2 separate regions of the Homo sapiens genome follow, and region 1 is linked to region 2. Evidence: fine-mapped expression QTL. A gene starts in region 2. The other region holds a variant in brackets. All regions are shown on one strand. Distances are between the middles of the regions. Region 1 overlaps VPS8 (VPS8 subunit of CORVET complex). Region 2 holds the start of VPS8 (VPS8 subunit of CORVET complex).

Evidence for each region. PIP is the estimated chance that this variant, and not a neighbour inherited with it, causes the effect. A credible set is the group of variants that fine-mapping cannot tell apart.
Region 1: its variant is the best candidate, but not a certain one, in a credible set for the expression of VPS8 in subcutaneous fat (TwinsUK, PIP 0.85).

The regions. Positions count from the first base shown.
Region 1 is chr3:184,936,046-184,941,434 of GRCh38, forward strand. VPS8 (VPS8 subunit of CORVET complex) reads left to right here. Exons shown (of 48, transcript NM_001009921.3): 35 at 201-290; 36 at 4,152-4,198. Among named protein-coding and RNA genes, the nearest start is that of VPS8, 130 kb to the left of the region's middle. The variant C/CT (reference allele first, on the strand shown) is at 2,604.
Region 2 is chr3:184,809,857-184,815,245 of GRCh38, forward strand. It overlaps VPS8 (VPS8 subunit of CORVET complex), which reads left to right and starts at 2,310. Exons shown (of 48, transcript NM_001009921.3): 1 at 2,310-2,369. RefSeq lists enhancers at 2,128-2,177, 2,238-2,437 and silencers at 4,471-4,560, 4,571-4,620.

The sequences.
Region 1 (5,389 bases), 130 kb after region 2:
GATTTTTTTTTTTACATGGCACATTTCTAATTTTGCTCATTTGCAAAGTGCGCTTTAAATTGAGGCCCTATATCAAGGTCTGCTGAAATGCAGCATGGAAGCTTGCGACTGTATTGAGGTAGGTAATCGTGCCTCACATCTGTGGATATGCTGTTTAAATGAGCCATTAGAGATGGCTTTGTCTTTTCCTTTAACTCCAGGAACTCGTGTCCCTGAAGCCTTGTAAAGCTGCGGAGCTGGTTGCCACCCACTTTTCTGGACATATTGAAACGGTCATTAAAAAACTTCAGGTACATATTGCAAATATATATTGGGGAAAAATATCTAGTGGAAAGACAATTATTAAATCGTCACCTAAGAAGTTTTGATTGTAGTGATTTCTTCAGTTGACATTTATTAGCAGTTTCTATTAGGTTGGTGCAAAAGTGATTGTGGTTTTTGCCATTTCTTTAATGGCACCAACCTAATACTGTGTGTGTGTGTGTGTGTGTGTGTGTGTGTGTGTGTGTGTGTGTGGTTGGGAGCAGTTGTATGATGATCTCTTAGTTTGGAAATGAGGGAGTTCATCTTTGTGCATACAAATATGAGCTTCAAAGAAGCATTTCTGGAACTATAATGTACTTATCCTAGAAATCCTAATCCACAGATCCTCCCTTCTCCCATTTTCTTTTGCTGTAGGATCCACAACCCCGTTTTCTTTTTTTTTTTTTGAGATGGAGTCTCGCTCTGTCACCCAGGCTGGAGTGCAGTGGTGTGATCTCCACTCATTGCGAGCTCCGCCTCCCGGGTTCAAGCCATTCTCCTGCCTCAGCCTCCTGAGTAGCTGGGACTACAGATGCCTGCCACCATGCCTGGCTAATTTTTTTGTGTTTTTAGTAGAGACAGGGTTTCACCATGTTACCAGGTTGGTCTTGATCTCCTGACCTCATGATCCGCCTGCCTCGGCCTCCCAAGGTGCTGGGATTACAGGCGTGAGCCACCACATCTGGGCCACAACCCTGTTTTCTTTGAGATTCATATTTATTCAAAACTTTGTCATCCTGAAATTGTGCTGTTTAGAATGTTTCTTGGAAAATCTTAACTGGAATACAGCTATATGCATGGTAAATATTGAGAAGCTCAGTTAGAAGTACTATTGAATGGACTGTTTAAGGTATTCCACTTACCACTTACCATGGCCGTGCTGATGTTGAGTTTGCTCCCTGTCATTGTAGCCACAAGTGATAGAGGCAGGGAATAGGACAATGACAGGGACATGAAGCACCACCCAGAGTCCTCAAGTGACATTAATAGTGGTTGGGAATAGCTGTGCAAGAAGGAAATCAGAGCAGTGAGTAGGAGGTAGCTGGCATGAGAGACAAAAATATGGAATTCATTCATTCGAACACTTAGTGCTGCTCTACTCTCTACCAGTGTGCTAGGCCCTAGGGACAGAAATAAGAATACAACCTTTTCTTAAATTTTTCCTCTAGAACAGAGAAGCACTTGCATAATTATAGTCCAGTGTTGAAAGAGCTACACTAGAGATATGTGAAAAGTACTGTAGGAACAAGAGAAGAGGGTGATGGATTGCGAGAAAGACAAGAATGCCCAGAGATCCCTAATCTGGTCTTGAATGCCTAATGTCAGATTTCCAAGCAGAGACTTGGGCAGGGCTTTCTTAATAAAAAGGTTCTGGGTATAAAAGCCTTGAAGGCATAAAGCAGCATGCATGTTCAGAGAACAGTCAGGTCTGTGTGAAGCATGACGTCAGCAGGGGGTGATGGTGGAAGTGGCATTAGGTTAAGCTACTAGTGATAGGCTGGAGGGGAGGAGCTAAACTAGAGGGGTTGCAAAATACAGCTTGGAGACAAATACGAAACGGTTTCACATGTGATGCTATGAAATTTAAACTGTCTTCTGTGTACTGAGAATTATTGAAGTTCTTTAAAGCTAAAGAGCAGTATCATTAGATCCATTTTACAGAAAATGAACTTCGGATAGCAGTGGGGAGAATGGACTGGAAAGGAGAGCAAATGGAGGAGAGAGAAGAAGGTCTAGGCAAAAGATGGAGAGGACTAGCACTAAGTCAGTGGCAGTTGGAGAGGACAGATTTAGGACATTTTTGTGAAGTAAAATGTATAGGATCTGGAAATCAGTTGAATGTGATGGGAGGAGTTAAAAACAACTCCCAGATATCAGGCTTGGTTGTCCAGCATGATAATGATGAGGTCCATTAACTCAAGAAAAAGACTCACCGATTAATTCAATAAATACCTGCTCTGGGCCAAAAACATTAAGTGCTGAGGATACAAAAACATGTAAGTGTGATCCTGCTCTCTAGGAAGAAGACAAATAAGCCAAAAGACAATTACAGACTAGCTTGATTGGAATGCTAATGGAGCCCAGGATACTGAAGTAGTACACGGAAGGACATGAAATCCAGTCTAGTGAGGGAGGGTAGGAGGAGGTTTCTACCAAAACTACTCTCAACCTCCAGAGCTTCTCTCCCCTTTAAAAGTCAGCACTTCTGGTAAATTTTGCCTGTGGTGGTGGCTGTGTTGTCATTGTCCTTTAAGATTTAAAATGATCACTTGTAGGATTTTCTTTTCTTTTCTTTTTTT[C/CT]TTTTTTTTTTTTTGTAGTCTCTACGGATATTAAGAGACAGGCCCAGTAGGTGAATATAATGTCATTCATCAGACAAATATATAAAAGTAAAGTATGGGCGGGGCACAGTGGCTCACACCTATAATCCTAGCATTTTGCAAGGCCCAGGCGGGCAGATCGCTTGAGCTCAGGAGCTCAAGACCAGCCTGGGCAACATGGTGAAACCCCATCTCTACAAAAAAATCCAGAAAATTAGCTGGACATGGTGGTGGGTGCCTTTTGTCCCAGCTGTACGGGAGGCTGAGGTGGGATGATCACCTGAACCCAGGAGGTTGAGGCCGCAGTGAGCTGTGATCATGTCAGTGCACTCCAGCCTGGGTGACAGAGTGAGACCCTGTCTCAAAAAAAAAAAAAAAAAAAGGTCTGTTTGTGGAGTCTTAGACATTTCTTTTAAAGAAATGAAGTATTTACTTTATTGCATAGCTTTATAAATTGTGCAAGAATCCCACATAGATCTTACAAAGTACCTTTACTTTTGATGGCAAGAAATATGCCTCTGACCAATTGTTTTCAGAATTCTTAAAATGAAAAATTGCCAGAATGTTATGTTATAACTGAGAAGAAAGTCATGTAAAATAACACAAAGTGATAGTGAAAAAATAGAAAATCAGACTGATAAAAATAAATATATTTTTAAATCATATTTTATATTAATCTTTTTCATCTTTAAGAGTCCCCCATTTTTTACAGATAAAGTGTGAATTTGTCAAAAAATAAAAAAACAAAGAAAAACTAAACAATAACAATTTTTGCATAGGTTTCCCAAGAATTTAGAAATATTCATATTTTTGTAGTATTTGAAGGTTTATCTCATTTAACCCTCACTACTACCCAATGTGGAAGGCAGAGAAGATATTGCTGTCCTCTTTTTTTTTTTTTTTTTCCACATAAGGAAATTGAATTGCTCAGAGGATAAGTAACTTACAGAAAGTCACGTAAGTGAGTAAATGGCAAAAACAGAACCCAGATTTTATGGCATGTTGATTGCTAACATGTTGCAGTTTGATTGGCATCTCTTCTGTAGTTGTTGATATTCATGAACTTTTTTGGTGGTGGTTGTTAACTTGGACCTCAAACTCCCACCCTCCCTGGATGAACTATCTCACAGCAACCCATTGCCACAGGAGGACCAGGTTAAGGCAAGGTGAAACTGATCAGTGCATCCAGAGCTCAGCATCCACAGAGCAGTTCCAAGCACCTGCCACTCCGAGGGTCCTTGTGCTGGGAACAGCTCGAGGATTTGTCTCAGTAGAGGTCTGTTTTGGGCGATAATAGGGTGTTTGTGTTCCGTTTACACTGAGAAGTGAATGTGCGACAGTGATTAGAATTATTGAGAAGACATAACCTCCAGATGATTCTTTAGAATTTCTTAGATCTGTACAGAGGGCTTTGTGGAAATACTCAGATATCTGTGCATAAAGGGATAGGTTAAAGTAGTTCTTTACCATGGAATATTTGAAAAATTTGTTTTAATATTTAATTGTAATTTTTATTGTTTTTCTGTTCAGAACCAGGTTTTGCTTTTCAAATTTTTGAGGAGTCTTCTTGACCCAAGGTATGTTGACAAACTTTAGTCTTTCATTATATATATATATATATATGAGAAATAAAAGGAAATAAATAAAGTTACCAGCCCATGGTATCTAAATAATACAATTAGCTCTTAATTTTTTATATTAGTAGGAGCAACTGTTACACAGATAATGTGAAAATAGAAGATCTGAACGATAGATTATATCTTGAGATAATACTTTTCTTTCCATTTGAACATGAGCATATATGGTGAGTTCTCATGGGTGTAAATAAAATAATGAAGCCATGCCACAAGGACATGTTTCAGAAGAGTTAGCTTCCCCCTCCTGCCCTTGTTTCACTCTTGCCTACTCCTAACTTCATGTGGGTGATTGATGGTGGCTCTACTTTCCAAAGTTAACACTTGGTTCCCAGCCCACCTCTAAATGTATTACCTTTTAAACTCTGACTTAATATGTTTAGTTTTAAACAACTTCCTGATGGTGTGGGAAGGAAAGTTTAAATGTGTTTTTTCAACAGCTACTCTGATGTTTATATCAAATAAAAGCAAACTCAAGGAGATGATGAAATTAATAATGGATTTGTAGGCAAAGCAGTGCTGCATATGAGGTTTTAAAGTTTTGCTGTAACTACATAGAGTACATTGGGAGTTGAGGGCAGTAATATTTAATATCCTCTAAGATAGCTACTCTTGACTAGTAGTGTGCATCAGAATCACCTACGAAGCTTTTAAAAATTCAGATGGCTTGTCCCAACCCACAGAATCACTGGGAGTTGGAATATTTTGATGCACACCTAGAGTTAAGCATGGTTTACGTGTAATTTTCCAAGATGACATAGCTTTCATATCAGACATACAAACTTTAGGTTTCATTATAATATATGCTGGCCATTGAAAACAACTATTTACTTACGTTAGCAATTGTAATATCAGCTTTGGTTATTTCCGTGTTCTGTGAGATTTTAAAATACCAAAATACCAGTAATTTTGTTGGTTGTAAAATTTTTTTGAAAGCTCAACCATTTAAATCTTGAATAGGCTGTGGTACATTTAAATTTAGTCAAACGAATATGTATGTGTAGATGTTTACTAAAAGCAGACTGATTACAAAGCCCCCTCCACTTGTGTTCAAGACCTTTTCAAAGTATCTGTATTTTAATTCTCTGTCCTCAGATTATTACTGAGGGTAGACATCCTTTTTTTTTTTTTTTT
Region 2 (5,389 bases):
CCTGGAAAGGATAGCATTTGAGATTACTTCCTGCTGTGAACAGAGGTACATAAAAGGGCTGTTACTTTGGAGAGGTCTCAGAGTCAGTCTGGACCATCCTAAAATATTCTTTATTATAAGTTGAAATCTGCCTCTCTGCAACGTCCATACACAGGTCGTAGGCTTGCTTTCTTTCTACAGCTATTCAGAATAAGTCTATGAGTGTTGCAGAGATATTTCAAAAGGGTCAGTTTTTTAAAGTAATGGCAAAAACCGCAATTACTTGTGTACCAACCTAATAGCTACCTTTCCACTGCTCACCCCTATGACCCTGCTCTCCCCTACTTCTGCTAATTTCTTTTCCTCTGGATACTTTCAAAAGTTCTCTGTCACACAGGCTTTCTGGTCTCACCAGCTTGCTTATCCTTCTGTAGACAGTCTCTAGTTTAATAGCTTTACTAGAAAAATGTGATATTCAGAACCAAAGGCCGGTTTCCAGCCTTCTAAAGCACAGCTATCATCTTGCCACTCCTCTGCTCGAGTTCCTCTGGAGACTCTCACCAGAAGAGCAGAACACCCCAGCTTAGCGTGCAATGTCTTCCTGGATCTGGTCCTAGCCTTTCCAGCCTCATAGCCCACCACATCTCTAATACACACTACACCAGTGTCTTCAAACTATGGGTTGCTCTGCATCACTGAGTACTGAAATGAATTCAGTAACCAGCACTTAAAAAAAGAGAATAGAATAGAAAATACCAAGTTGCATTGTACACTCTAAGGGCAATTACTGTTTCAGCATATCTATCTATCTATCTATCTATCTATCTATCTATCTATAATGCACACTCACACATATGCGCATACTGTGTGTGTTTTTATACTAGGCCATGGCTGAAATGTATCTTTTTTTTTTTTTGAGACGGAGTCTCACTCTGTTACCCAGGCTGGAGTGCAATGGCACAATCTTGGCTCACTGCTGCAACCTCTGCCTCCTGGGTTCAAGCAATTCTCCTGCCTCAGCCTCCCGAGTAGCTGGGACCACAGGTGCATGCCACCACACCTGGCTAATTTTTGTATTTTTAGTAGAGACAGGGTTTCTCCATGTTGGTCAGGCTGGTCTTGAACTCCTGACCACCTGCCTCAGCCTCCCAAAGTGCTGGGATTGCAGGCATGAGTCACCGCACCTGGCCTGAAATGTATTTCTTACTGTGAGGGATGATTAAAAGAAGGTTGAAAGCCACTGGCCACACCACGGCTACATCAGGCCAATAACTAGTTCCCAAACTTGCTTTGTACTGCCTTTGATCCCACCCTTCCCTCAGCTAGGCATTCTCCCTGCTCTCTGCTACTGAAATCCTTCAAGGCCCTGACAAGATACCACATCCTTCCTTGAGTGTTTCACCCTTTCCCCCTGTCTGTGCGAAAATGGTGGTTCAATGTCTTTCTTTATATTACTCAAAACAGCCTGCCTTGTATTTTGTTATGTCTGTACACTGAATTCTTAGAAAATAAATACCTGGAGGACAGGGCAACACCTTCGGGTCTTCTGAAGGCCCAGAAGTCTAGTGAACCTAGCTGATGCTCAAAAATGTCTGCCCAACCGAATATTTTCTGTATCTCCTTCCAAGAGTATCTTCTGGTGTTCTTCCTCCTGTTTTCTTGACCTATATAGCCCCCAGCAGGCCTAAAATCTGTGTCCTGGGGCTAATGTTACGTACAGTGATGACTCTAGAAACCAGTCTGTTCTGAAAGCTTTCACCTTTCTTCAGGAGCGATAAGAGAAATAAGCATACGTTTTTGTTCATTTTTCAGATGTTTCCTTTATTTGAGACTATGTTTCTCCTGTATTTTTGGTGTTAAGATGTATTTTGGGGAGCAACACTGATGATATATTACAAGATAATAGTTGGTATTTTAGTATGTGTGTGCCTATTGTACTTATTTGACACAATAAATAGGCAATTCTGAGTTCATCTTTTAAAAAAAAAAAAAAGTTAAAAAAAATTTACTGGTTGCAAACTCCAAAAGGCAGGGAATCAACTTCCCTTCTGGGCTGGCTGCAAGTAAGTTCACTTTCTTAAAGGAGGAGCTTTCTCCTCTCACCTCAAGGACTGTTATTTATTTGTCTGCGCTACTCTTTCGACGTTTCCATTCTCTTGGTCCTCAAGATGTGAATCACCCATTTTTTCCGTAGGGGGGAAGACGGCGTATCTCTGGCCCTTTAAATAGGGGCGTGGTGAAGAGGCGCGGACCGCCCAGGAGGGGGAGCAGTGCGAGGAGGAAAGCGGAAGCGCTGCCCGCAGTGGTAGGTAGTGCGCGTGCGTGAGGCTAGAGCAGTGGGTGCGGTCACGTGGGCCGGCGGTCCACGGCCGGAATGGCAGCAAGCTCAGGTAACGAGTTTCCAGAGAGCGGGCCCGTGGAAGGAGACAGGATTGAGGGGCCGTATTCAGGGTAGGAGGAGAGCGCGCGACAGGTCTCTGAGCCTCGGCGTCTCCTCCCCGCGCGACAGCGGCGGGACCTCGGGGAGCGAACAGAGCAGCCCCTGACGGGCTAACCGGACCCGAGCCACGGGCCGGGCGGGGTTGATTCTCGAGTGGAGGGGCGTGTCGTACGTTGGCCCGGAACTGGGTCGGGCAATTTCCACTTACTGGTTCCAAATGAATGTGAAAATTCAAATGGGCTTAAGTAAAAAGGGATTTATTGGCTCCAAACCTGGAAGGGGCTGAGGTATCACTAAATCCAGTGACTCCGGTGATGTATTTGTGTATCTCTCCCTTTCTGCAAAGGGCCAGTAACCCCTCAGTTCCCTATCTACTTTGCGACTATAATTGCAAGCCTCATTCTGTCCTGTTACAGTCGTGCGGCAATTAGGCTGAGGGACTGGCGCGCCCGCTCCCCCGACTGTGAGCCTAGGCGGCGGGTGTCATGCCCCTCCCCACTCCCGGGCGGAACAGGTGTGTAGCCGGTCTGTCGGGCCTGGGAAACAGGTGTGGACCCCTTTAGCCTCCAGGGACTGATATCAAGGTGCCTGAGCCTGAGGCTTAGATGGGGTGTCCACCTCTTAGGATCGGTGCGCACCCTGTGAGGCTGGTTCCAGTTTGTCTCCGCGTGCAAGTTGTGCACCAGAGTGAGGGCAGCAGGGTGAAAGGTGGGCCTCTGAAGTTCGAGGCTACTCCTGTGCCTTGGCCAGTTCTTTGTGCTTGGCATCTGGGGAAGGAGGGAAACAGCTGCTCAGAGTGTCTGGGTGTACAAAATGGGGGTGCTTTACAGGAGGATAGGGTGGGAGGAGGTAGGATCGGTGAGAGGTTCCATGGCCGTGGGTTATCAGGAATAGCTAGCTGGGGAGCCTTCTTTAAATAAGCAGGCCCCCTCCACTTCTTAGATTCTTGTTAGAATGAATAGGAAGGCTTCTGGCCTCTGCACCATCCACCCTCTACCATACTCTACTTTCCCCTACTGAAAAACCCCAAAACCCAAGCAAAACAAGCATGGATGTTAGCTTGTGGTGCTAAACCTTACTCCAAATGTCTGCATTTGGGAGACAATTACATGTTAATTGTCTGTGTATGTCTATGTCTGCCTGTGTGGGTTTGAGGTATATCTAATATAAATGTGGATGGAGAATCTGCATATGTTTGTGTAAGACGTGGGTTTGCTCATGGTTAAATTTAAGCACAGAATAGGTATTGAATCCTCTGGCAATAGCTGGCCTGTTCCATAGAATATGCAATAAAGATAAATGGAAAAAAAATTCGTTGAACTACTGGGCTTTATATGGTCAAAGAGGCATTTGTGAGAAAATTCTTTCCAGAGCTCTAACAGAGTAATATGTTGATTTTTTCTTTATATTTAATATATTTGCTTCGTATCTGGACCATTGTCAGCAGATGGATGTTTTCTGTCTTCCAGAATATTGGGACATGTTGGTGATTCTTAGCTGTATCTCACTATTCCATTGACATTTCAACCAGTGTGACACAAAATGTCAGTTATGTATGTGAATGAGAAGTAAGATCTTTTGAATTTAATGAAGTATGTTTAACTTTGGATCTATTGATAGCTTTCATAGAGTTTAGATCGTATGTTCTCTTGATCCACAGCTGTAGGTGTCATCGGTACATAGTGGTAAGATCAAACTGTTGTATTCTTAACTGAATCTTGAATGAATATTTGACTTATCTTCACGCTGTATGACATTATTAAATGTGTTCTGTGTTTTAGCAAGGAAATATAGCTTTGCGTTGGATTTTTCACTGTTATGAATTTCTTAGGTTTACTGTAATAGCAATTATACTTTTTTAGTCAAAGATATTTCTGTTGCAAGTGACAGAAAATTCAAATGGGCTTAAGCTAAAAGGGATTTATTGGCTCCAAACCTGGAAGGGGCTGGGGTATCACTATATCACTAAATCCAGTGACTCCAGTGATGGAGTACTTGTGTCTCTCTCCCTTTCTGCAAAGGACCAGTAACCCCCAGTTCCCTATCTCCTCTGCAACTGTAATTGCAAGCCTCATTCTTCCTGTTACAGTCATGGGACAGTTAGGGGATATGTTCTGAGAAATGTGTGGTTAGGCAAATTTTGTCATTGTGCATGCATCATAGTGTACTTACACAAACCTAGATGGTGTAGTCTGCTACACACCTAGACTATGTGGGATGGCCTGTTGCTGCTAGGCTATAAACCAGCACAGCATGTTACTGTACTGAATACTGTAGGTGGTTGTAACACAATGGCCAAGTATTTGTATATCTAAACATAGAAAAGGTACAGTAAAAATACAGTTTAAAAGATTGAAAAATGTGAACCTGTGTGGGGCACTTACCATGGATGGAGTTTGCAGGACTGGAAGTTGCTGTGGGTGAGGCAGTGAGTAGTGAGTGAGTGTGAAGGCCTAGGACATTATTGTACACTACTGTAGACTTTTTGAACACTGTACACTTAGGCTACACTGAATTTATTAAAAATTTTTTCTTTCTCCAATAATAAATTAACCTTAGCTTACTGTAATGTAACTTTTATGTTATAAACTTTTTAATTTAAAAAAGTTTTTAACTTCTTTGTGATAAAACTTAGCTTAAAATACAAACACATTGTACAATTAGCTGTACAAAAATATTTTCTTTATATCCTTATTCTGTTAGCTTTTTTCTATTTCAAAAAATTTTAATCTTTAAAAACGAAGACGCAAACACACACATTACTCTAGGCCTACACAGAGTCAGGAAGGTCCCGGTGGAATGTCTTTAGAGGCAGTAACACATAGGGAACTGTCATCTCTTATGATAACAGTGCCTTCTGGAATACCTCCTGAAGGACCTGCCTGAAACTGTTTTACAGCTAATTTTTAAATTTTTAAATAAGTGGATGAGTACACTCTAAAGATAAAAAGTATAGGATAGCAAATACAT